7 linked regions of the Homo sapiens genome follow. The protein of the gene in region 7 purifies or fractionates together with the protein of the main gene of each other region. This does not show direct contact. Each region holds a gene or a part of one and is shown on either strand. Other genes may lie near its edges.

What was found.
Region 1: the proteins of PAK6 (region 7) and ACACB purify together in Homo sapiens (affinity purification with mass spectrometry, with the first as the bait; one large-scale study listed by BioGRID). This does not show direct contact.
Region 2: the proteins of PAK6 (region 7) and RHOBTB2 purify together in Homo sapiens (affinity purification with mass spectrometry, with the first as the bait; one large-scale study listed by BioGRID). This does not show direct contact.
Region 3: the proteins of PAK6 (region 7) and ATP2A1 purify together in Homo sapiens (affinity purification with mass spectrometry, with the first as the bait; one large-scale study listed by BioGRID). This does not show direct contact.
Region 4: the proteins of PAK6 (region 7) and PGD purify together in Homo sapiens (affinity purification with mass spectrometry, with the first as the bait; one large-scale study listed by BioGRID). This does not show direct contact.
Region 5: the proteins of PAK6 (region 7) and TTC28 purify together in Homo sapiens (affinity purification with mass spectrometry, with the first as the bait; one large-scale study listed by BioGRID). This does not show direct contact.
Region 6: the proteins of PAK6 (region 7) and AGK purify together in Homo sapiens (affinity purification with mass spectrometry, with the first as the bait; one large-scale study listed by BioGRID). This does not show direct contact.

Annotation. Positions count from the first base shown.
Region 1 is NC_000012.12:109,263,087-109,266,586, forward strand, and holds part of ACACB (acetyl-CoA carboxylase 2), read left to right. Parts: intron 1-1,145; coding exon 1,146-1,300; intron 1,301-2,023; coding exon 2,024-2,194; intron 2,195-2,302; coding exon 2,303-2,439; intron 2,440-3,149; coding exon 3,150-3,276; 3' UTR 3,277-3,500. UniProt on the Homo sapiens protein: Mitochondrial enzyme that catalyzes the carboxylation of acetyl-CoA to malonyl-CoA and plays a central role in fatty acid metabolism.
Region 2 is NC_000008.11:23,013,048-23,016,547, forward strand, and holds part of RHOBTB2 (rho-related BTB domain-containing protein 2), read left to right. Parts: intron 1-1,642; coding exon 1,643-1,731; intron 1,732-2,590; coding exon 2,591-2,696; intron 2,697-3,500. UniProt on the Homo sapiens protein: Regulator of cell proliferation and apoptosis. It likely functions as a substrate-adapter that recruits key substrates, e.g. MSI2, to CUL3-based ubiquitin ligase complexes for degradation. Required for MSI2 ubiquitination and degradation.
Region 3 is NC_000016.10:28,888,488-28,891,987, forward strand, and holds part of ATP2A1 (sarcoplasmic/endoplasmic reticulum calcium ATPase 1), read left to right. Parts: intron 1-299; coding exon 300-466; intron 467-3,500. UniProt on the Homo sapiens protein: Key regulator of striated muscle performance by acting as the major Ca(2+) ATPase responsible for the reuptake of cytosolic Ca(2+) into the sarcoplasmic reticulum.
Region 4 is NC_000001.11:10,416,064-10,418,537, reverse strand, and holds part of PGD (6-phosphogluconate dehydrogenase, decarboxylating), read right to left. Parts: intron 1,552-2,474; coding exon 1,421-1,551; intron 1,163-1,420; coding exon 1,029-1,162; intron 1-1,028. UniProt on the Homo sapiens protein: Catalyzes the oxidative decarboxylation of 6-phosphogluconate to ribulose 5-phosphate and CO(2), with concomitant reduction of NADP to NADPH.
Region 5 is NC_000022.11:28,677,041-28,681,189, forward strand, and holds the start of TTC28 (tetratricopeptide repeat protein 28), read right to left. Parts: upstream 2,801-4,149; 5' UTR 2,684-2,800; coding exon 2,582-2,683; intron 1-2,581. UniProt on the Homo sapiens protein: During mitosis, may be involved in the condensation of spindle midzone microtubules, leading to the formation of midbody.
Region 6 is NC_000007.14:141,610,410-141,613,909, forward strand, and holds part of AGK (acylglycerol kinase, mitochondrial isoform 1 precursor), read left to right. Parts: intron 1-785; coding exon 786-878; intron 879-3,500. UniProt on the Homo sapiens protein: Lipid kinase that can phosphorylate both monoacylglycerol and diacylglycerol to form lysophosphatidic acid (LPA) and phosphatidic acid (PA), respectively. Does not phosphorylate sphingosine. Phosphorylates ceramide.
Region 7 is NC_000015.10:40,245,563-40,249,062, reverse strand, and holds part of PAK6 (serine/threonine-protein kinase PAK 6), read right to left. Parts: intron 1-3,500. UniProt on the Homo sapiens protein: Serine/threonine protein kinase that plays a role in the regulation of gene transcription. The kinase activity is induced by various effectors including AR or MAP2K6/MAPKK6.

The sequences.
Region 1 (3,500 bases), on a different chromosome or scaffold from region 7:
ATTCCCAATCAGAGATAAGATATTTTACTAATTTTGTTTGAATGACAGCTTTGTTTTACTTGTCATCTTTAGATGTAATTATCTTTATTTATTTATTTGTTTATTTTTGAGACAGAGTCTTGCTCTGTTGCCCAGGCTGGGGTGCAGTGGCGCAATCTCAGCTCACTGCAACCTCTGCCTCCCAGGTTCAAGCGATTCTCATGCCTCAGCCTCTCAAGTAGCAGGAATTACAGGTGTGTGCCACCACACCTGGCTAATTTTTGTGTTTTTAGTAGAGACAGGGTTTCACCATGTTGGCCAGGCTGGTCTTGAACTCCTGGCCTCAAGTGATTTGCCTGCGTCAGCCTCCCAAAGTGCTGGGATTACAGGCGTGAGCCACTAAGTCTGGCCACAAGATGATATTTAAATATCCATTTTAAGTGTCAGTGTCTTTATAACTGTGCTATTCACAAGATTTTTTACAGTGTGTGCGTGTAATTTCTTTGGCTGGTATCAGGGTAATGCTGATCTCATAGAATGAGTTGAAGTGTTCGCTCCTATTTTCTGAGTTTTTGCAGAATTGGCATTATTTCTTTATGTTTTTGATAGAGGTTTTTACCTATAAATTCAACTTCTTTGTTATATATAGGACTATTTGTGTTATCTGTTTCCTCCTAGGTGAGCTTTGGTGGTTTGTGTGTTTCAAGGAATTTGTCTATTTCATCTTAAGTTGTCAATTTGGCATAGAGTTGCTTATAATATTCCCTTATCATATTTTACAATGTGTACTAAAAATCATTGATATAGTATCCTACAAGCACGATGGGTCTGATGGAAGGGGAAAATGTAGAGTTGCATGTTGAATGCTGTCTTGCAATTGTGAGTGCATTTCTGAGACTGTACTAGCTATTTGATCTGAGACAAAGGGGGCCATCAAGATGGGCCTGGGGTGGGGGCCAGGCCAGTGGACTCTGGGGGACCTAGGGGGCTGAGGGCAGCCTGTGTAGCAGCAGGGGTAATATCAGAGTTAAAGCTCAGACCTCTCACAAGGCAAGGCCTGTCCTGCAAATCCTGATTTGTGCCTTCTTCAAAAAAAAAAAAAAATCTCCACCCCATCACATATGACCAGCTTCCATGGCTTGACTGGCCTTTCTGCTCACCTGCAGGGGAACCTGATCTCTCCGACAAGGACCGAAAGGACCTGGAGGGCCGGCTAAAGGCTCGCGAGGACCTGCTGCTCCCCATCTACCACCAGGTGGCGGTGCAGTTCGCCGACTTCCATGACACACCCGGCCGGATGCTGGAGAAGGGCGTCATATCTGTGAGAGCCACAGCTGCCGTGTAGGGTGCAAAGAGCCCACCCTGTTTTCCAAAACATGGAGGACATTTGGGCTCGGGGGCGGGGAGGGCGGTGGTGGTTGGGATGGGTCAAATGCTGCAGGAGGTGGGAGTCACCTGGGAACTTTAAAATAATCCCGATCCCCAGGTGGCACTGCAGACCAGTGAAATCCAAACACCTGGATGGAAGCCAGGCGGTCGTATTTTTTAAAGATCCCCAAGAGATTCTAATAAGCAGCAAAGTTCAGGGACCACTAGTCTGATGGCTCGGTCAGTTTGGACCTGGACCAGGGGTAGAAACCGTTGTTCCTGTCCAGCATTCACCCACCCCTCACCATTGCAAGGACTCCCACAGTCACCTCCTACCCATGTCCAGTGCTCATTGGTTCTCTTGCTGCATTGTTCTCCCTCCCAGCTGACTCATGCCTCACACGAGCCTGTGTTTGTGTCGGTTGAGGTAGAAGTGGGTGCCAGGTTTTTATGGGGGACATTTTTTCAACTATGGCCAGTCTGGAGTCCTGGTGACGTCCTGCCTCTGAGCAGGTGCCTTCTCCTCCCTGAGCCTCAGCTTACTTGCCTGGGATGATCTGGGAATGATCTCAGAGCCTGGGCCCAGCCCCGGGCAGCCACTGTCATGGGTGTGGTCAGAGCCAGTGTCCCGTCTCCTCCTTCCCTTTCCGGGGATTCAAGCCTGGCTCGTCCACAGGACATCCTGGAGTGGAAGACCGCACGCACCTTCCTGTATTGGCGTCTGCGCCGCCTCCTCCTGGAGGACCAGGTCAAGCAGGAGATCCTGCAGGCCAGCGGGGAGCTGAGTCACGTGCATATCCAGTCCATGCTGCGTCGCTGGTTCGTGGAGACGGAGGGGGCTGTCAAGGTGGGCCTGGGGTGAGAACGAGGCCGGTGAGCACAGGGGGTGCTGGGGGCTGAGACAGCTGGCCCACAGCTGGGTCCCTCTCTGAGGCATCCTCTGCCCCCTCCCCAGGCCTACTTGTGGGACAACAACCAGGTGGTTGTGCAGTGGCTGGAACAGCACTGGCAGGCAGGGGATGGCCCGCGCTCCACCATCCGTGAGAACATCACGTACCTGAAGCACGACTCTGTCCTCAAGACCATCCGAGGGTGAGTGGCCACCGCACCTGCTTCCCAGCCTCCTGGCAAGGACCCGAGCCTGGATTGACCCCTAGCTACCCGACTCCTATGCAGCCACTTGAACCCGCCACCCTGTGCAGTCTGGGGTTGTCCCCGCCCCCTCCCCGCTCCCCAGCAAAGAGACCACACTCCCTAATGTCGGGTCTCCCAGCACAGTGGCTGGGGTGGGACAGAGAGCCTAGAGGTACTCTGAAGGCCGTGTGAGATGCTTCCAACTCATGAACCTTGCTGGAATATGGACTTGTCCAAAGTCACAGCTGGAGCAGGGTTGGTCACAGAACCCACATTTGGAACCGCTAGCCTTCAGGCTGCTGTCTTCCACGCCAGTGTTGACCTTTCCAGAGGGTCCCCTCCCCCAATTGCCATGGGGTCACCCCGTGAAGGAGGGAGTCGAGCACAGGGGACCCCATTTTGGGGATGAAGCTGAGACTCAAGGCAGTGTCTTGTCTCAGGTCATGTCACAAAGCAGTGACCAGTAGGGACGGTGGTGCCTCAAGGCATTCTGAACTTCAGGTCACAGCCCCTCCTGCTGCACAGGACCATCACCCCCATGGGGACCACAGCAGGGACTCGGGAGCTCTGGGTTCTGGGGTGTGGCCCCACACAAGGACTCTGCCACCCTTGGGGCCACTGAAAAAGTGGCTGGAGTGATCCCAGCCCTCCTCTCACCTCCCCCACAGCCTGGTTGAAGAAAACCCCGAGGTGGCCGTGGACTGTGTGATATACCTGAGCCAGCACATCAGCCCAGCTGAGCGGGCGCAGGTCGTTCACCTGCTGTCTACCATGGACAGCCCGGCCTCCACCTGACCGTGGCCCGCCCAGCCACTCCCGGGACCACGGCAAAAGGAACCACCCAGACCCACCACCCGTACACCCTCAGCAGACCCTGAAGACTTGCTTTTAAACAAAGAAAATCCTGGGCACTTCTGCAGGGCTGCTGGTTCCGAGCTGACACCCGTCTTAACAAAAGGCCCAGGAGTGCCTCTTCCAAACAAAAACAGCCTCCTCTCCATAGCTGGGAAGTTTATTTT
Region 2 (3,500 bases), on a different chromosome or scaffold from region 7:
CTTGGCCTCCCAAAGTGCTGGGATTACAGGCGTGAGCCACCACACCCGGCCTAATTTTTAAATTTTTTGCAGAGATGAGGTCTCACTGTGTTGCCTGGACTGGTCTTAAACTCCAGCCTCAAGTGATCCTCCCATCTCGGCTTCCCAAAGTGCTGTGATTACAGGCGTGGGCCACCAAGCCTGGCCTAGTTTAATGAATTATTATAAAGAAAATGCCTTTCTACTCATGACCTATGTCAGGAACTAGAACCTTGCTGGCCACCAGAAGTCCTCCACCTCTCCCTCCTCTCTCACAGACCCCTCTCTCCTCCCTAAGAGGAAGCCCTTTGCCTAGTATTCCTTTTTTTATGGCACTTTTTATGGGCATACTGCCTTACTTTCCTTTATAGTTTTATCATCCAAGTGTGTGTCATTAAACACTACAGCATGGTTTTTTGCATTATTTTTTACTTTTATTTTTTATTTTTGGAGATGGAGTCTTACTGTCACCTGGGCTGGAGTATAGTGATGTGATCTCGGCTCACTGAAACTTTCACCTCCCAGGTTCAGGAGATTCTCATGCCTCAGTCGCCCGAGTAGCTGGGATTACAGGCACGTACCAACACACCCGGCTAATTTTTGTATTTTTAGTAGAGACAGGGTTTCACCATGTTGGCCAGGCTGGTCTTGAACTCCTGGCCTCAAGTGATCCACCCGCCTTGGCCTCCCAAAGTGCTGGGAGTATAGGCGTGAGCCACCGTGCCCGGCCAGTTGTTTGTTTTTGAAGTATTATTATGGCCCCTTAGATTTGAACATTCTTGATTGGTTTCAGTTAATTGCAGTTATCCTTGCTGAAGCTCAAATCCTGCACTCTTTGGCTTGACTCCAGAGTCTTACGAGCTTCCTCTCTATCTGGAATGATGAGATGTTCTAGGTTCCTCTTGAAGGTTCTGTGCCCCAGACCTGGAATCAGCCATTTCTCCAGGAAGTCCTAGTTTCTTGTGTTGGAAGTGGAACTGGTATTTGTGTGCACTAGGAATGCTCATTGTACTGGGATGACTGTTGTTTCTAGGTCTTTTCTGGGGGCAGAGCTGGGAAATATATTGATCTTTTTAAAGATAAGATACCTCATGAGTTTATACTGATACTTCTAATTAAAATTCAGAACCAAGGGTGTTTACTTCTTCAATATAAGTGTTTTAACTTAAAATACAAGGTTAGTACACAATTTTTTACAAAATTTAAATTAAAACAAACAACTAGACTTAACTCCTAGTTCTAACTCACAGTTCTCAGCCTTTTTCTGTGATCAGCAGACATGAGGTTTCACACACTCTCCCTTTTGTATCAGAGGCTGGTTCTGTTGGGAACTTTGACCCTACCTGTATCAGATTATGTCACGGGACATACGTAGTTTGAAAAATCCTCTTAGGTAATTCCAATGTCCTCCTTCTCTTCCTACCCTACCCCGTTGAGCTCTTGCTGTCATCCCTGGGGTCCCCCTGGTGGCAGCAGACGTCATAGCCTGGGGCCTTTCCTGGCCTGTCCGGACCTGCCCGGGCCCTGGTTTTCCTCACCCTGAAGTGAGCTGGGGGATGTGGTGGGGCAGGGTGAGCACAGGTCATGTGCTTCTTCAGCTGATTGGTGGCCGTGTGTGTTACAGAGCAGTACACAGTGACCGGGCTGATGGAAGCGACCCAGATGATGGTGGACATCGATGGGGACGTCCTTGTGTTCCTGGAACTGGCTCAGGTATCATGGCAGGGGAGGGAATCTACAACAGTCTCAGTTCTACACTCTGCCTGCCCATTGGCTGCGAATGGGAAGGGGTGGAAGATGGTCTATGCGGGAGAACCTGTCATCGGACTGGGCTCTTTGACTGCGCGTAGCCCATCTCCTCCTCCATGCCAGGAAGCAGCTGGGGAACTCCCTGGTGTACCCGGAGGGGAGCTGACCAAGTGGGGAAGGGATGAGGCTTTAGGCAGCAGTAGGGCTGGGGAGGGAACCCCAGGCTCAGGCTTACACATGGTTGCTGCCTGCCTGAGGTCATTTAAGGGGCACTGAGGACTTTCCATCTGAAATTAACCGCCTACTCCCTTAATCCCAAACAAACAAGCCAAATCTCCCACAGTGGCCTTCACAGTGCCAGAAATTCAGCCACCAAAGATTAGTGTGTGGAGTGGAAGCACGGCTCAGGCAGGGCTTGCAGACACCCCTGGGAAGGCAGCTCCCTTAGCTCATTGTCAGTGCCTCCGTGCAGGCTGCCTTGATCCCAGATGTGGAGGAGAGAGAAGTCAGGTAGGTTGAGATCTGAGGAGGGCAGATGCAGTATGAAGCCACTACATAGGGCTCTGGTGTCTGCAGCGAGGATGCCAGGAGTGGGCAGAACAGAGGTGAGATGATGGTGGTGCTGGCGGTGGTGCCAAGGAGCCTGAGGCAGCATCATCATCCTCAGTTTTGTGTGGCCTTGCCTCTGGCGCAGGCTCTCTAGAACTGCAGGGCCTCTGCGTGCCCTGCACCAGAGCTTCAGCTCTGAAGGCAGCTGGAGGTGTCTATGCAGACCCTCTCCCCTGGGGATTTCAGTACAGACGTTCTTCCCTTCTGTCCCCAGTTCCACTGTGCGTACCAGCTGGCCGACTGGTGTCTCCACCACATCTGCACCAACTACAACAACGTGTGCCGCAAGTTCCCCCGAGACATGAAGGCCATGTCCCCAGGTGAGCATCGGGGCCAGTCCTGGCAGTACCTGCTGCCCTCCCCTTAGGGGTGCACAGCTCCCATGTAATCCCAGGGACCCCGAGGCTGCCAGTAATCCTTGACCTTGGGGCTGGGAGCAGCCTGCAAAGGAGCCTCCAGCCAAGCCAAGGGGCCCCAGGAAAAGTGCTGGCCTGGAGGGCAACTCACCCTGCCTCTCTGGGCTTCTCATTCTCAGAGGTATGAAGAGGATACTGGACTAAAGTTGGTAGATTTCAGACTTTTCTGGACAGAATACCGTAAGAAATACATTTCATCTTGTGACCCAGGACACATATAGGAAAATATATACATCTTTCTAATGCTGCTCATGGCCCACTAAATTGATGGTACAACCCAGGAATGGGTACAGGCCACAGCTTGGACCACCCAGGTCTGGGCATCCTCTGAGGCCTCCTGTCTCTTCTTGATTAATTTCTTAGGCCCTAGAACTCAACAGAAACTGCACAGGCTCCAGGGAGAGGTGTCCCTGGCCTCCCTGAAGGGTCTGCCACTCTTTCCATGGGGTCCTCTCTGGGCTCCCTCCAGTCTGCCGTGACCCTCCTCCCTGCTGCCGTGTTTTTGCCTCATGCTGCCAAGTCTCCACCCCGATCTCTCCTTTTCACTACTACAACACTTTTAAAAAAAAATTATTTATTTATTTATTTTTTTGAGACAGTCTTGCTCTGTTGCCCAGGCTGGAGTACAGTGGCACAATCTCGGCTCACTGCAACCTCCACCTCCTGGGTTCAAGTGATTCTCATGCCTCAGCCTCCCGGGTAGCTGGG
Region 3 (3,500 bases), on a different chromosome or scaffold from region 7:
AATCTCGAACTCCTGGATTCAAACAATCCTCTTGTCCCAGCCTCCTGGGTAACTGGTACCACAGGCAATCACCACCACACCCAGCTAATTTTTAAATATTTTCAGAGGAGTCTCACTGTGTTTTCCAGGCTGGTCTCAAACTCCTGGCCTCAAGTGATCCTCCCGCCTCAGCCTCCCAAAGTGCTAGGATTATAGGTGTGCACCAACGTGCCCAGCTGGGGGCTACTATTTAGCCCCTTGCAGGTTCCCTCACACCCTCCCCTTGCAGGTTCCCTCACACCCTCCCTCCCTCCCCACAGGTCTTCCTGCAGTCATCACCACCTGCCTGGCCCTGGGTACCCGTCGGATGGCAAAGAAGAATGCCATTGTAAGAAGCTTGCCCTCCGTAGAGACCCTGGGCTGCACCTCTGTCATCTGTTCCGACAAGACAGGCACCCTCACCACCAACCAGATGTCTGTCTGCAAGGTCAGGAGCAGTGTGGGCAGCGCGCTCAGTCAGAAGGCTGCCTGTGGGGGTTAAATGGGCCCTCCAAAGATAGAGGTCTCCCTTCATCACTGCTGGCTTCTCATCTGGGCCTGCAAAATGCTCAAAGGGCAGTAGAACGCCATCCTGTCTGCCATGAACGGGATCAGAGAGGACCCTTGTGCCCCAGCCAGACAGCTCACTCTGACCACCATCCACGCACCAGGCACTGCCACACATCGTCTCTCATCCCTCACAATAGCCCATTCAGAGGATGGTCTCATTATCTTCATTTTTTTAATTAAAAAAAATTATTATTATTTTGAGACAGAGTCTCACTCTGTCGCCCAGGCTGGAGTGCAGTGGTGTGATCTTGGCTCACTGCAACCTCTGCCTCCCGGGTTCAAGCGATTCATCTGCCTCAGCCTCCCTAGTAGCTGGGACTACAGGTGCCTGCCACCACGCCTGGCTAATTTTTTTGCATTTGTAATAGAGACAGGGTTCGCCATGTTGGCCAGGCTGGTCTTGAACTCCTGGCCTCAAGTGATGTGCCCCTGTTCGCTTCCCAAAGTGCTGGGATGATAGGTGTGAGCCACGGCACCCAGCCTAACTTCCTTTTTTAGAGGAGGAAAAAGCCTCTGAGAGATTAAATGACTTCCCCCAAGATGCACAGTTAATAAATAACAGAGTTGAGCTTCAAACCCGAGTCTGTGTGGCCCCAGAGCTTCTGCCTGTGAAGTAGATGGCTCTCCAGAATGGTCACTCATGACAGGGCCCGGCCAGACTGCCAACACTGACCGTGAACAGCATTTCCTAAAGCAGGGCTCTTAATCTTTTCTGTGCCTCACACCCCTTTGCAGTTGAGCTCTTGTCAGGATAATATTTCAAATGTATATTAATAAAATAAAACAGGCCAGGTGCAATGGCTAACGCCTGTAATCCCAACACTTTGGGAGGCCAAGATAGGCAGATCACGAGGTCAGGAGTTCGAGATGAGCCTGGCCAACATGGTGAAACCCCATCTCTACTAAAAATACAAAAATTAGCCGGGCATGGTGGTGCGTGCCAGTAATCCCAGCTACTGGGGAGGCTGAGGCAGGAAAATTGCTTCAACCCGGGAGGCAGAGGTTGCAGTGAGCCGAGATCGCGCCACTGCACTCCAGTGTGGGCGACGGAGTAAGACTGTCTTAAATAATAAAATGAAATGAAATGAAATAAAATAAAATAAGCCAGGGGTGGTGGCTCACGTCTGTAATCTCTTCAGGAGGCCAAGGTGGAAGGATCACTTGAGCCCAGGAATTCGAGACCAGCCTAAGCAACATAGTGAGAGTCCGTCTCTACCAAAAAAAAAAAAAAAAAAAAAAAATTAGCCTGATGTGGTGGTGCACACTTGTAGTCCCAGCTACTCAGGTGGCTGAGGCAGGAGAATCACTTGAACCCAGAGATTGCTTGAGCCAGGAAGTCAAAGCTACAGTGAGCTGTGATCACACCACTGCACTCCAGCCTGCATGACAGAGCGAGACCCTGTCTCACGCACAAAAAAATAAAATAAAATAGGGCTAGGTACGGTGGCTCACGCCTGTAATCCTAGCACTTTGGGAGGCTGAGGCGGAAGGATCACTTGAGCCCAGGAGTTTTAGACTAGCCTGGGCAACACAGTGAGACCCCACCTTTTAAAAGATAAAATAGAAAGTAAAAAATAAATAAACAAAACAGGATTCTGGGTTTTTTTGTTTGTTTTTTTTTGTTTTTTGAGATGGAGTCTCACTCTGTTACCCAGGCTGGAGTGCAGTGGCCCAGTCTCGGCTCACTACAACCTTCACCTCCCAGGTTCAAGTGATTCTCCTTCCTCAGCCTCCTGAGTAGCTGGGACTACAGGCACGCACCATCACACCCAGCTAATTTTTGTATTTTTAGTACAGATGGGGTTTCGCCATGTTGACCAGGCTGGTCTCTTAACTCCTGACCTCAAGTGATCTGCCCACCTCGGCCTCCCAAAGTACTGGGATTACAGGAGTGAGCCACTGCGCCCGGCCAGGATTCTGTTTTAAAAATACATAGGAAGCTGGGCACGGTGGCTCATGCCTGTAATCTCAGCACTTTGGGAGACCGAGGTGGGTGGATCACCTGAGGTCAGGATTTCGAGAATAGCTTGTCCAACATGGAGAAACCCCGTCTCTACTAAAAATACAAAAATTAGTTGGGCGTGTTGGCAGATGCCTGTAGTCCTAGCTACTAAGGAGGCTGAGGCAGGAGAATCACTTGAACCCAGGAGGTGGAGGTTGCAGTGAGCTGAGATTGCGCCATTGCACCCCAGCCTAGGCGACAAAAGCAAAACTCCATCTCGAAAAAAAATATAAAAGACCTGACGCAGTGGCTCACGACTGTAATCCCAGCACTTTGGGAGGCCGAGGTGAGCAGATCACCTGAGGTCAGGAGTTCGAGACCAGCCTGACCAACATGGAGAAACCCTGTCTCTACTAAAATACAAAATTAGCTGGGCGTGGTGGCACATGCCTGTAGTCCCAGCTACTTGGGAGGCTGAGGCAGGAGAATTGCTTGAACCTGGAAGGCAGAGGCGGTGAGCTGAGATCGTGCCATTGCACTCCAGCCTGGGCGACAGAGCGAGACTCCGTCTCAAAAAAAAAAAAAAAAAAGTAGCCAGATGCGGTGGCTCACACCTGTAATCCTAGCACTTTGGGAGGCCAAGGCGGACGGATTACCTGAGGTCAGCTTGGCCAACATGGTGAAAACCAGTCTCTACTAAAAATACAAAAAATTAGCCAGGCGTTGTGGTGGGCACCTGTAATCCCAGCTACTTGGGAGGCTGAGGCAGGAGAATCGCTTGAACCCAGGAGGCGGAGGTTGCGGTGAGATTGCACCACTGCACTCCAGCCTGGGCGACAGAGTGAGACTTTGTCTCAAAAAATAATAATAATAAAATAAAACAAAAATAAAAAAGTAAAAAAAAAATACATAGGAAAGATACATAGGGTTACAGAGGAAACCAATGATTGTGAAATACAGTTCTATCAAA
Region 4 (2,474 bases), on a different chromosome or scaffold from region 7:
CCCAAAACGCTGGGATTACAGGTGTGAGCCACCGCGCCCGGCCAAATGCAATGAATCTTAACTCTAACAGGGAAGTAAGCTGGAAGCCGATGTATACCCTAGTGAAACAAAGTTACATTTCTCATTTCTTCAAGCTGTTAACCCTTTTCCTGTTTAGAAAAAAAGTGCAGCTCGCTGCCAGCGCTCATTTAATTTTACATAAACACGCTTTTTGAGGCTGAAGAAAATCTGACGATTTTCAATATGAAAATAAAATATAAAAACTATTCTTGGCGTTATTTCTAAAGAGAACTAATATTAGAATCATCTGAATCACCAGAATCATCTACTTCAGAAAAATCAGATTCATCAAATGAATCTTCAGCCAACATGAGAACGATGTAACGTCATGTGTAGAAATGCTACGTTTTCTATGATTTGGCATTTTCAATGAAAATACAGAGCAAAATTCCCAAGAGGCAAGGCCAGAGGGCACGATAGTTCACAGAAGTACTTTAAAAGGTGTAGTGTAGTAGGTGTAATGCGGAGCCGGGCGCAGTGGCTCACGCCTGTAATCCCAGCACTTTGGGAGGCTGAGGCGGGCAGATCACCCAAGGCAAGGAGTTCGAGACCAGCCTGGCTAACATGGTGAAACCCTGTTTCCACTACAAATACAAAAGAATTAGCCGGACATGGTGGCGTGCCCTTGTAATCCCAGTTACTTAGGACGCTGAGGCAGGAGAATCACTTGAACCCGGGAGGCAGAGGTTGCAGTGAGTCAAGATCGCATCATGGCACTCCAGTTTGGGCAATAAGAGCGAAACTTGGTCTCAAAAGAAAAAAAAAGGTGTAGTGTGGACAATCTAGTTACAGCAACTGAGGTACAGTGAAGAAGGGAACCACATAATCTAAGCCTATCTTGTGCCAGTGTCCAGTGATGGGGCTAAGTGCCCATCCCTGGAAACTGCTCAAGCTAAGTGTCCTAAGATCGCACTTCTGCACAGCCGTGTGAGTCCTTCCCGTCGGACCCTGGGCTGCCTCTCACTTACCTTCTAATGATGCAGCCCCCTCTCCACATCAGGGCGATGCCACCATAATTGAGAGTCCAGCCAAACTCGGTGGCTGCCTGCCTTAGCAGCATAAAGCCTTGAGCGTAAGAGATGATCTTGGAAGCGTAGAGTGCCTAAAGAGTGACACAGAGACCTACTAGGATTGCCATTAGGAGAGTGACCGCCTTATGTCTACCAGTCTTATTCTCATCAGCAGTGGAGATCCCAGAAGGGCCAATATTCTAGGAAAACATTGTAAGTCAAGATCCAAGTCAAGGCTGAACTTCATTCCACCTGCCATCCTGTGGCCTCGAGTGTTCTCCCACCACAACCCCCACCCCCACTGCCTTCCGCAGGACCAACAAAGACCACTGCCAGGGACTGTGTCCCACCTTCCGAATGTCCTCCAGGAATGATTTCTTATCACCATCAAACTGGAACTTCTGGGGACCCTTCAGCTTTTTGCTAGCTTGAATTCTCTCATCCTTCAGAGATGATAAGCACCGAGCAAAGACAGCTTCTCCTACATGGGGAGATCGGGAAGAGGAAACAGATTACTGTCAGGCCTCTGAGCCCAAGCTAAACTATCATATCCCCTGTGACCTGCATGTATACATCCAGATGGCCTGAAGCAAGTGAAGAATCACAAAAGAAGTGAAAATGGCTGGTTCCTGCCTTTACTGATGACATTCCACCATTGTGATTTGTTCCTGCCCCACCTTAACTGAGCGATTAACCTTGTGACATTCCTTCTCCTGGCTCAGAACCTCCCCAACTGAGCACCTTGTGACCCCTCGGCCCTGCCCGTAAGAGAAAAACCCCCTTTGACTGTAATTTTCCACTACCTGCCCAAATCCTATAAAATGGCCCCACCCCTATCTCCCTTCGCTGACTCTTCGGACTCAACCTGCCTGCACCCAGGTGATTAAAAAGCTTTATTGCTCACACAAAGCCTGTTTGGTGGTCTTTTCACACGGATGCGCATGAAAATTACCAAAGTTCGCACAGCAACCAGAAGAAAGGTGGAGCAGGAAAGTCTGTTTATACAAAGAGCTGAAAGTTTCAACCTTAGGCCACAAAAGTTGACATGGATCGGAAGGAACTTTTATAAGAAGCTCTAAACAGTTAATTTGATAACTAAAACTCTTAAGACAATCTTCCAATACAAACATGAGTATTCAATCACAAAGATTAACATGAAATTCAAAAGGGAGTTTTGAGGGAAAATGAAGAGATAGAAACCACTGTTATGGCTGGGCAAGGTGGCTAACACCTGTAATCCCAGCACTTTGGCAGGCTGAGGTGGGAGGATCACTTGAGCCCAGGAGTTCAAGGCTACAGTGAGCCATGATCACACCACTGCTCTCCAGCCTGGGCAACACAGTGAGACCCTGTCTCTAAAACCAGTAAAATAAAATAAAAACCACTGTTATGTAGAATACTCAG
Region 5 (4,149 bases), on a different chromosome or scaffold from region 7:
GCTACTTGGGAGGCTAAGGCAGGAGAATTGCTTGAGCCAGGAGGGTGGAGGCTGCAGTGAGGCCAAGATCATGCCATTGCACTCCAGCCTGGGTGACAGAGCAAGACTCCATCTCAGGAAAAAAAAAAAAAAAAAATATATATATATATATATATATATATACACACATATATATTAAGTTAAAACCCTACTGAAATGAAACCAATAAAATAAAATTCAATTTAATTAAAAAATAGTTCCTGAAATATTAATTTTCAAACAATTCTATTTTAGCTTTGACTCTGAACAAAATATAAACCTCAATTTCAAAATATCACAAAGATTGGCTGGGGGCAGTGGCTCACGCCTGTAATTCCAGCACTTTGGGAAGACGAGGCAGGTGGATCACCAGAGGCCAGGAGTTCCAGAGCAGCCTGGCCAACATAGGGAAACCCAGTCTCTACTAAAATAATACAACAAAAATTAGCCGGGTCTAGTAACCCCAGCTACTCAAGAGGCTGAGGCATTAGAATCGCTGGAATCTGGGAGGTGGAGGTTGCAGTGAGCGGAGATCATGCCACAGCACTCCAACCTGGGCAACAGACTGAGACTCTGTCTCAAAAAAATAAAAATAAGGCCAGGTGCCGTGGCTCACACCTGTAATCTCAGCACTTTGGGAGGCCAAGGTGGGCAGATCACTTGAGGTCAAGGAGTTTGGGACCAGCCTGGGCAACACAGTGAAACCTCCTCTCTACTAAAAATACATAAATTAGCTGGGCATGGTGGCACATACTTGTAATGCCAGCTACACCAGAGGCTGAGGCAGGGGAATCGCTTGAATTCGGGAGGTGGAGGTTGCAGTGACCTGAGATTGTGCTACTGCACTCCAGCCTGGAAGACAGAGTGAGGCTCCGTCTCAAAAAAAAAAAGAAAAAGAAGAAAATTTAAATTAAAAATTTAAAAAATCACAAAGACTACAAATACTCAGGTTTAAGCAAATTCCCACCTTTCTTGAATTAACAGTAATTCATATTTGCTTTGTCATAAATGTAGATATTTACCTGCCCCAATGGAATGAAATCCTAAAAGCCTAGTGTTCCCAAATGATGAAGAGAAAGAAACATGCATATTTTAATTTAGAATTTTGATTCAGAATTAATTTTAACCTAGCTGGAGTATACATAATCATTTATGTATTTATTTACTTATTTAAGAGACTGGGTTTCATTGTGTTATCCAGGCTGGAATGCAGTGGCACAACCTTGGCTCACTGCAACTTGTACTTCCTGAGCTCAAGCGATCCTCCCACCTCAGCCTCCAGAGTAGCTGAGACTGCAAGTGCACTCTACCACACCCAGCTAATTTTTGCGGAGACGAACGAGTCTCGCTATGTTTCCCACACTGGTCTCTAACTCCTTGGCTCACTACAGCCTCAAGCCCCTGGGCTCAAGCAATCTGCCTCCCAAAGTGCTGAGATTACAGGAGTGAGCCACCGCACCCGGCCTAGTGGATAGTGTATACTAAGCAACATGTACCCTGCTTTTGCCTAAAACATACTGAAAACATGGCATTGAACACAATCACAAAGTTGGGAGCTGAGAAAAATCATATACTGTAAAATAAATCTGAGATATTAATCTCAAGAAGCTCCTGAAAATGTCTCAAGAACTCCTATGCTGCACTCTCCCTAATAATTTAGACTTTCTACAGATATTTTCTGATCATCTACAGTGTGTCAGGCACCATGCCAGGTACCAAGATGCCATGGTGAGGTATACACAAAACCGGCTCCTGCTTGCAGGAAGCCTACTCTCTAAAACAGTGCTTGCCAAGCTCGCCTGATCACAACTTCGGAGCTTGTTTAAGTTCAAAATCGGCTTCCCTGCTGTGGTGAGCCACAGTCCGTGGCATTTTGATCAGGTGCTCCCAATGATTCCTACGCTCTAACGGGTTTGGGAGGCAAGGGTGGGGGTAAGCTCGAGAGCCCAGAGACATCCCGTCCAGCGGGAGCCCCACCTCTAAAGTCCATGTCGCTCAGCATCCTTCCCCCTGACTAGTGGCCCAAACACAGCACGAAGCTGAGGTGGGTGGAACGCTTTTCAAAACAACGCTCTTTGATGAGCCACCGACAGACTTGCTCGCCTCCGGGGACGAAGAGCTCACTCCTCACAAACCCCACCCCGGAAAGGTAGCACCTGAGCATCCCGGGCTGCGCCGACACCTGTCTCACCGCGGGTGCCGCTTACCGCTCCGGTGGACTCCAGTCCCCAGATTCCGCCCCACGGGGGCTGGGGGAAAAGGGGAGGCGCTGGGCGCATTAGGCGCTGACTGTATACCGACACCCCCCACCCCGGTGTGCGCAGGCCAACACCCATACACACCCTCACACACCCACACACATCCACACACACTCTCGCGGAAACTGAGCCAGGCAGGCGGCGGACCAGGTCCCGCCGCCTCACGGCTCGCGGCTGGGATCGAACCCGGACTGCGAGACGCCTTCCGCCTCGCAGGCGCTCCTCTGCCGCTGAGGCCCGGCCCGGCTCCCACCGCCGGAGTTTCACAAAGAAAGTCTCCCGGCCCGAGCCCCTCACGCACTCACCGGCGCCGACGCCGGCGGCGACTCTGGCTCCCGCCGCCTTCGGCTCCTTGCGGGGGTCGGCCCTTGGGTCGGCTCGGGCGCCGGCGGCGGCGACTGCTCCATCCCCACGGGGCCCGGGCCGCGTCCGCCTCGAGCTAACGGTCCCGCCAGCTAGGCGCGCGCGCCGGTTCCGCGCGCCATGTTCCCGCCGTGCTGCGCGCCGCCGCGGCGCCCCTCACTGCCCCCAAACCGCGCGCGCGCCCCCGCGGGCCCACACATGCACCGCGCACGCGCGCGTTCGCCGCGCCCCCTCCCCGCGCGCCCCGCCTCGCGCCCTCTGGAGCTGGCCGCTGTTCCCAGTGTCTCGCCCACCCCCGCCGGGCCCGTCGGACTCGGCGGGTGAGCGCGCGGTTCCCGGCTCCGCACCGCCGCCTGCCTCTCTGCAGACCACCCCGGACCCGACCCCTCGGCCATTTCCCCACACTGCCGCTTTCGCTTCCCCCACGACGCGGGGCCTGGGACGACGGTCTGGGCCAAGAGGAACTTCCCCGCAAGAAGTGTCGAGTTAAGGACGCTACTAAGGGGGCGGGATCGCCATCGTGGAGGTGTGCAAGCACGTGCCTGCGTCCCGGAGACAGCCAGACTCAACGGAGAAGCTGAGTTCAAGTCCCACATCTCCACTAACCCTTGCGTGTTAGGGTCAGGGCTTCGGGACTTGTTTCTCCTAAATCTTTTTTTTTTTTCTTTTTTGAGACGGAGTCTTGGTCTGTCACGCAGGCTGGAGTGCTGTGGCGCGATCTCAGCTCACTGCGAGCTCCGCCTCCCGGGTTCATGCCATTCTCCTGCCTCAGCCTCCCCAGTAGCTGGGACTACAGGCGCCGGCCACCACGCCCGGCTAATTTTTGTATTTTTAGTAGAGATGGGGTTTCACCATGTTAGCCAGGATGGTCTTTATCTCCTGACCTCGTGATCCTCCCGCCTCGGCCTCCCAAAGTGCTGAGATTACAGGTGTGAGCCACCGCGCACGGCCTGTTTCTCCTAAATATAAGGACTCAATATAATAATAAGAGAAAGCCTCAGCACCGCGCCTAGCACTTAGTAGGTAGTGATCAAGAGAGAAGACCTCTTAAGTGGTTTTAATGGTTAAGGACCACAGGTTCTCAAGAAAGGGAAATCTCAATTCAAGTCCCGCCTCCATCTCTTGAAAACTGAGAAACCTTGAACAAGTCACTCAGAGGAGCCAAAGATCCTTGATTTCTACATGTGCAAAAGGGGAGTGTGGCAGTAGCACTGCACAGGGTTGACTGAGCTTTCAGGGAGATGATGACTGTACGATCATGCCTCTCTTAATCACGGGATGGTTCTGAGAAATGCCTCCTTAGGTGATTGCGTCATTGTGCAAACAGCAAAGTGCATTTACACAAACCTTGTATAGCCTTGTATAGCCTACTACACACCTAGGCTGTATGGCGTAGCCTATTGCTCCTAGGCTACACACCTCTACAGCCTGATACTTTACTGAATATACTATAGGCAATTATAACACAATGTAAGTACTTGTGTACCTGAACATAGAGAAGGTACAGTAA
Region 6 (3,500 bases), on a different chromosome or scaffold from region 7:
TTGAAATTTAGTGTTTGGTTTTAGAAGTATACATATTATTGGTGGCTTAAATGGTTCATTGAAGTCTATGTATGTATCTGAAATCAAATGGTATCAATAAAAATGGTAAGTCTTAGGCATTGTTTTGTGACTACTTTGAATCCTACCTGTATTTCTTTATGTATGGTCATAACAAAACAATAATAACCTCCTTTTATTTAGTGCAATACCAGTTATGAACAGTTACCTTACCAGTTGCTTTACATACTGCTTTACAACTGGTTTACTGAGAAGTTATCATTATTCCCTCCCTCAACACACATAATTTCAGTGATGAGGAAATTAAGATCCATAGAATTTAAGGTCACTCAGCTAAAAAGTAGCAGAGTTGAGATTTAATCCAGGTCTCTTGGGCTCTGACATCTGTGCTCTTGTCATTACATCTGCTTCTTCCTATTTGCATGTACACTTGACTTCCTATAAAGGATGTAATAGAATCTGCACTTGACTGGAAATGATGCCCTTGACTAGCTAGCTGTGTAAGAGACAAATTATTGGGTTTGAATTTTATTTTCAAAGTATGGAGCTGACTAGATGGTTTCTGAGGTCCCTCTGGCTCTAAAAGTGTAAAACTGTAACGACTATACATAATTGCTTTGATAGCTATTTTTTTCATGTCTATCAGTTATGTAAAATTTACGAAGACAGTCAATGTAAAACTTTAAAGAAGATATCCCACATTTTTAAACCTTTAACCTTGTGGCTCTAGGTTGATAAACTCACCAAAGGCTTCCTTGGTATTTCAGACAGATTATGAGGGACAAGCCAAGAAACTCCTGGAACTGATGGAAAACACGGATGTGATCATTGTTGCAGGAGGAGATGGGACACTGCAGGAGGTATGACTGTTTTTCTCTTTGAAGCTATTTTGAAGGTGAGAAAAATGGAAATTAAATCCTAGAGCAATGGTATGTTGTAATTTAAAGAAATTTTTTATTTTAATTCATTATTTTAGGATTGTTGCTCTCTAAAGCTAGTATAGCTTTAAATTTTTCTCCTGCACTTCCATTTCATTGCTTTTTGTAAACCCTCTACCCAGCACATAGAAGGATTTTTGTATTATCATATTTAAGTTTGATAATATTGAATATAACAGAAGAAAAAATGATGGTGGATGGGATAATCTTGTTATATTTTGAAGACTCTTATGAAGTAGCCCTGTTTGTAATGGAATCATAGTTTCCATCAACAGGTATGTTTCTTATAAAATAAACAGATATTCAGCTATCCATTCTCATGTCATTTCCATTACATATAATATTATACTACATTAATAGGAAGAGGTATACATGTTAAGATACATGCATCTGCTTTTGTTTTAATATTGCATCTTCTCAATGAGATGCCACTATGCACCTATTAGAATGGCCAAAATTTCAGAACACTGATGATATCAAATGCTGGCAAGGATGTGGAGCAACAGGAACTCTCATTGTTGGTAGGAATGCAAAATGGTACAGCCACTTTGGAACAGCTGGGTGTTTTCTTACAAAACTGAACACACTGTTAACATACAATCCAGCAATCATGCTCCTTGGTATTTACCAAAGGAGTTGAAACCCTGTGTCCACACAATTGCACATGTAGCAGCATTATTCATAATTACCAAATCTTGGAAGCAACCAAGATGTCCTTTAGTAGGTGAATGAATAAGTAAAGTGAGATATATTCAGACAATAGGTATTATTCAGCACTAAAAAGAAGTGAGCTATCAAGCCATGAAAAGACATGGAGGAAACCTAAATGTATGTTACTAAGTGAAAGAGGATAGTCTGAAAAGACTACATACTGTGTGATTCCGACAATTTGATATCTGGAGGAGGCAAAACTATGGAGGCAGTGAAACGTCAGAGGTTACCAGATGTTGAAGAGAGGGATGAATAGGCAGAGCACAGAGGATTGTTAGGGCAGTGAAACTATTCATTATGATACTGTAAGGGTGAATACATTTGTGTTACACACAAATTTGTTTAACACAAATTTTTTGTGTGTATTTGTTATACACAAATGTATAAGTGTTATACATTTGTGGGAACCCATAGATCTGCAACACCAAGAGGGAACCCTAGTGTAAACGATGGACTTTGGGTGATGATAATAAGGTGTCAATGTAGGTCCATCAGTTGTAACAAATGTGCCACTCTGGTGAAGGATGTTGATAATGGGCGGAAGGTTCACGTATAGGGGGCCAGAGGGGACATGGGAAATCTCTGTATTCCTCTCAATTTTGCTGTGAGCCTAAAACTACTTTTAAAACATAAAATTTATTAATAAAGATACCCTTAATGCTTACTTTGGTCCATTAAGGGCGGTAAGTATGTTACCCTGCAAGTACTCTTCTTTTCTAGCAGCAGAGTAGTGCATTCATTATATTTTGGAAACCCCTAAAGAGCCCAGTGCAGGTGATCCCACGCACTGCTTAATTTTTCATTCCTGTATACTATATTTCATATTCATACCTCATTTCTGATTGCCTGTTGTCCCCATTCATTGGTTTTACCAGTGTTCAGGGATCAGAAGCTAACAGCAGAGTACTGTCCTATGTTTGACTTAGTCATTATGTGAGCCTTAGTAAGCTTCTTTTAAAAAGGCTGTGCTAATGATGTTGTAATTGTTTTTATGGCTTTTTAATGAAGTGTGAAGAATATTGATAGCATGCCTACAAAGAAGGAAGTAGACCTCTCAACAGCCCCATTTATTCCTGAAATTCAGTGAGGCAGGAGAAGATGAAGGGAGGAGATCTGGGTCAGGTTTTACTTTACAAAATGTTTTTAAAGAAATTGTGTATTTGGTATAATTACAGTCATATAAAAATATGCACTGATTAGAAAAAGGATTGGAGGGAAATATATCAAATATAAACAAGTGATTTATAATTGGTTATCTGGGGCTGGGTGTGGTGGCTCATGCCTGTAATCCCAGCACTTTGGGAGGCCAAGGTGGGCGGATCACCTGAGGTCCAGAGTTTGAAACCAGCGTGACCAACATGGCGAAACCCCGTCTCTACTAAAAGTACAAAAATTAGCAGGGCATGGTGGTGGGTGCTTGTAATCCCAACTACTTGGGAGGCTGAGGCAGGAGAATCGCTTGAACCTGGGAAGCAGAGGTTGCAGTGAGCCGAGATCATGCCATCGCTCTCCAGCCTGGGTGACAGAGTGAGACTCCACTGCAAAAGAAAAACAAAATAATAATAGTTGTTTATCTGGCATGGTGGAATTATGAGAATTTTTTTTTGTATTTAGGTATTTTTCAGTTTTTACAGAATACTATCCTTCTTCATATTTGTCAATAAGAACGATTTGTTAAGTGCACACTCTCTGAGTGTAGCAAAGTGCTTTTTTCCTGTATATGTACTTCATAGTGGTAAACTAGGGTTTTCTGTATAATTGATGTGTACATCATATTTATACCCATTTTATAGAACTTAAAACATATTTTTAGTAATACAACTTGGAGTTTTT
Region 7 (3,500 bases):
CAGCACCTTGCTCTTGGGCTTCTCAGCTTCCAGAACTGTGAGAAATAAATTTCTGTTGTTTATAAGCCACCAGTCCATAGTATTTTGTTATCCAGTCCAGAAAGACTAAGTAAGCCAGTTACTGAGGGGAGGAGCTGGAATTTGAACGGAAGTGTATCCGACCCCAAAGCTGGTTCTCTCAACTCTGCTGCTTAGAGGCTGCTGGTGCCATGGAATGTTTGAACGGGCAGTGGGGAGAGACCAACTCAGACCTTAATATAAGGCATTTGTGTTTTAAAAAAATCACTGCCCAGGCAGGCTGTCACGTGAGACACAAGAGGGCTGGGGTGCGGGTAGGAGGACCGTCCCTTCCTATTTCTGTGTAACACGCGAGGACCCCCACATGGCACTGGGTGTGAGGGGCAGAGGGGCCCTCAGGTTCCCCCACTCTGTCACTGAGTTCCCTGCTAGGAATCAGGTGCTAGGCTTTCCTGGCCACAAGCCAGCACCCTGCCTGAAGTTCCTGCATCCCACATCTGCCCTTCACAGACCCAGATGGCCCAGTCGCCTCAGGCCCTCAAGCAGGACCTGCCGGGGAGGTGGGGGCACGTGTGCTGGATGCTTGGCAGGAGGAGCCCTGTGGAGCTGGGGCTCCTAGAGGGGTCGCTGCCCACTCACCCTGGAGCCCGAAGCCTGGGAGAGAGGCACTCTTGGGAGAAAATCCCTTCCTCCCCCTCTCCTCCAGGCTGTCCAGCACCTGCTTCTTCCTGCTCCTCACCCTGATGGGACCACCCATCTCTCTCTGCTGATGGGACCAAGAGGGAGGTGCAAACCTCTGAACCTCCGAGCATCTGGAAGTGTGAGCCGAGGGAGCTGACACTGCCAGGCCCTTGGGGTCCCCAGGCAGGAGGGAAGTTGACGGAGTCTAGCTGCAGAGCCATGGAGTCCTGCGGACGGGAGCCCTCTTGCCTCGCAAGACTTACAGCATGTCTCTGGCCTCAGTTTCCTGATGCATGTAATGGAAAGAGTACCTCCCGCCCTGGGGAAGGTGGTGGAATAATGAAGTCTAGAGCATTGGGGTACAGGGCTATGGAGGAGCAGCACCCCCAAACGGGGTGAAAGGTTCTTAACCCTCAGCCCTCACAGCTGCAGAAGGGACCAAGGAGAAAGCTCCCCTCCCCGACCCTGGGCATGCACACTGGAGCTTGGTTTGATGTGCCATGGAGTAGAATCCCAGGATTCGTCCAGAAAACAAGGCTACCACTTGCTACTAAATCAACCCAACAGGTCTGTTCACCCCGGGTTCCGGAAAGAGAGCCCAGCGCCAGGGGGTAGCACTGTCTAGGGCCTGGTTAGGTGTTTTGGAAAAGTCCATGGGTCCCCGCCCGGCTGCTGTACAGATGTGCCCTGCTGATACCCTGGGCCTCAGCAGAACCTCGAGCCTCTCTCTCTCTGCCTGCCTTTCCCTCAGGTTCTGCATCTGTACTAGGCTTCCTGTGCCAACGAGAATATATAAAACCATCCTCCCCAAACACAAGCTGACACTGGGGGCTAAACCTGCCTGACAGTCCCAAGGAGCCTGGTGACCTGGGAGGAGCTCCTCAGATGCAGGGACCATTGCAGGCTGCGGCGCCCGTCCCAGGTGCATCCTGGGCTACCCTGGGAAGGGCTGGGGAACAGCAAGAGCCAGATCTGTGGTAAGGACACTCATTTTAGAGACGTGATGGATTCATTTAATATCTTTTCGCTACAATTGCTTTGCAGTGCCTGCTCTTAATGGCCTCCAAAGTTCCATCCAAATATCTTTTGCTGGCAGTTTAGCTCTCTGGCTGGCATTTTTGCTGGCAGAACTAACAGCTGGATGCCTCCTTGAATGGGAAACTTTCATTGTCTTGTCTTCTCTCTTCTGAGTTTCCAGTGACTGCCCCAGGTCTGAGGCTGGAGCAGGGCTCTGACTGTGACACCCCTGCGTGGAGCCCAGTGGCTGACTTTCAGGAAGGACAGGTGAGTGTGGGGGAGTGGAGGCCTGTGCCTGACTAGGTGAGGGCCCAGGCCCAAGCTCCAAGGAAGAAAAGGGGATGTGAGGAAGCAGGGTATTTGTTGCCTGAGGCCCACCTCCAACACTTTGGGCAGAACACCTTAGCTCCAGATGCACAAAACTCACAGGCTCTGGGCTGTGCAGCCCCCTGGGAACACTAACTAGCTGGCCTCAGAGTCTGTGGACCTCTGCATGTGCCCTGGGTCAGAAGGCATGACCTGTCTAACTGCCACATGGCGTGTCTGTGCCATGCTGCCATCCTTCTCAGGGTCCTCTCTTCCCTAGCATTCTGGCACACACCGGACAGAACCCCTTGACTGCTGCAGGGGTGGTTGGCCTGCTGGGACATGTATTTGAACGCTGACATAGCAGGGTTCTGGTAACACCACTGCCACACCCTCGTCAGTGGCTGGTACAACAGCCTCTGCTAGGATGATGGACCTCATCATCCATGAGGCAGCCCCTCCTCCTGTCCTGACCACCCTCTCCTCGACAGGAGCCCTGAATGCCTGCTCACTGGCGGCCTTGCATTCTTCCCCCGGGGCTGGCTCCATCCCTCCCCAGGAGCTGAGACCTCTACTTCTCCCCACCTTTCTGGATCCCAGACACATCATCAGCAAGATCCACTCTAGTGGAATAGAAAAAGTCTTCTTGTCTAGCTTGGGCCTGGTGACCGGTGGCAAGTGACAGGCCTCCTGCTTCTGGGAACTGACCTCTGATGGTGGCTATTGGACATGTAAATGTCTGCCTGGGGTCAAAAGTCTACACTAATGAGAAGATCACCTGAAGAACAGGGCCTCCCAGGTGCCTCCCCTACCCTTTGCCCCAGAATCTCCGTTTCATCTCTGGCACTCATCATGACTCCCTTCTTTGGCCTAAGACATGAAGTTACCTGGGACAAAAAGAACTTCAATCAATCAATTTATAAATTAGTTAGATCTCTTCAACAGAGAGTGGCCTGGTCCCCAAGAGTGGCCTGGGTGCTGTGTGCAAAGTTTATCCTCGGGAAGCACTTGACTGACAAGCGTGGGCTGGGCTGTGGTTTCAGGTCTAGCAGAATGCAGGGGGATGGCAGGAGGCACCCAAATAGCACAATAGGAGCAAAGCGGGGACCTGCCCAGCCTCCCAATGTGTCAGGCCAGGCCGCCTCTCCCAAGCCATCAAGTTACCCAGTGGCTGCTGCCTGCTCCTGCATGGGCCCCTTGGTAGCACGGGGGTGGGGGTTCAGCCTGGGTAGCAAGAGTGCTGGGCAGGCAGCTGGGGATCCCTGGGCTGGAAACTGACTCTGCCATTAGTTAGCTGTGTGGCCTCAGGACCCACTTTCCTTCTCTGGACCTCTGTTTCCCGCTCTAAAATTATGGGGGCTGGACGAAACATCCTCCGGGGACTCCCTTTGGCTTGAATGTGCTACAGCAATCTGAGATGGCCAGCTCTTTCCTGGGGCAGCCTTTTCCTCCTCAGAGCTCCTCTTTGCTGATCTGAG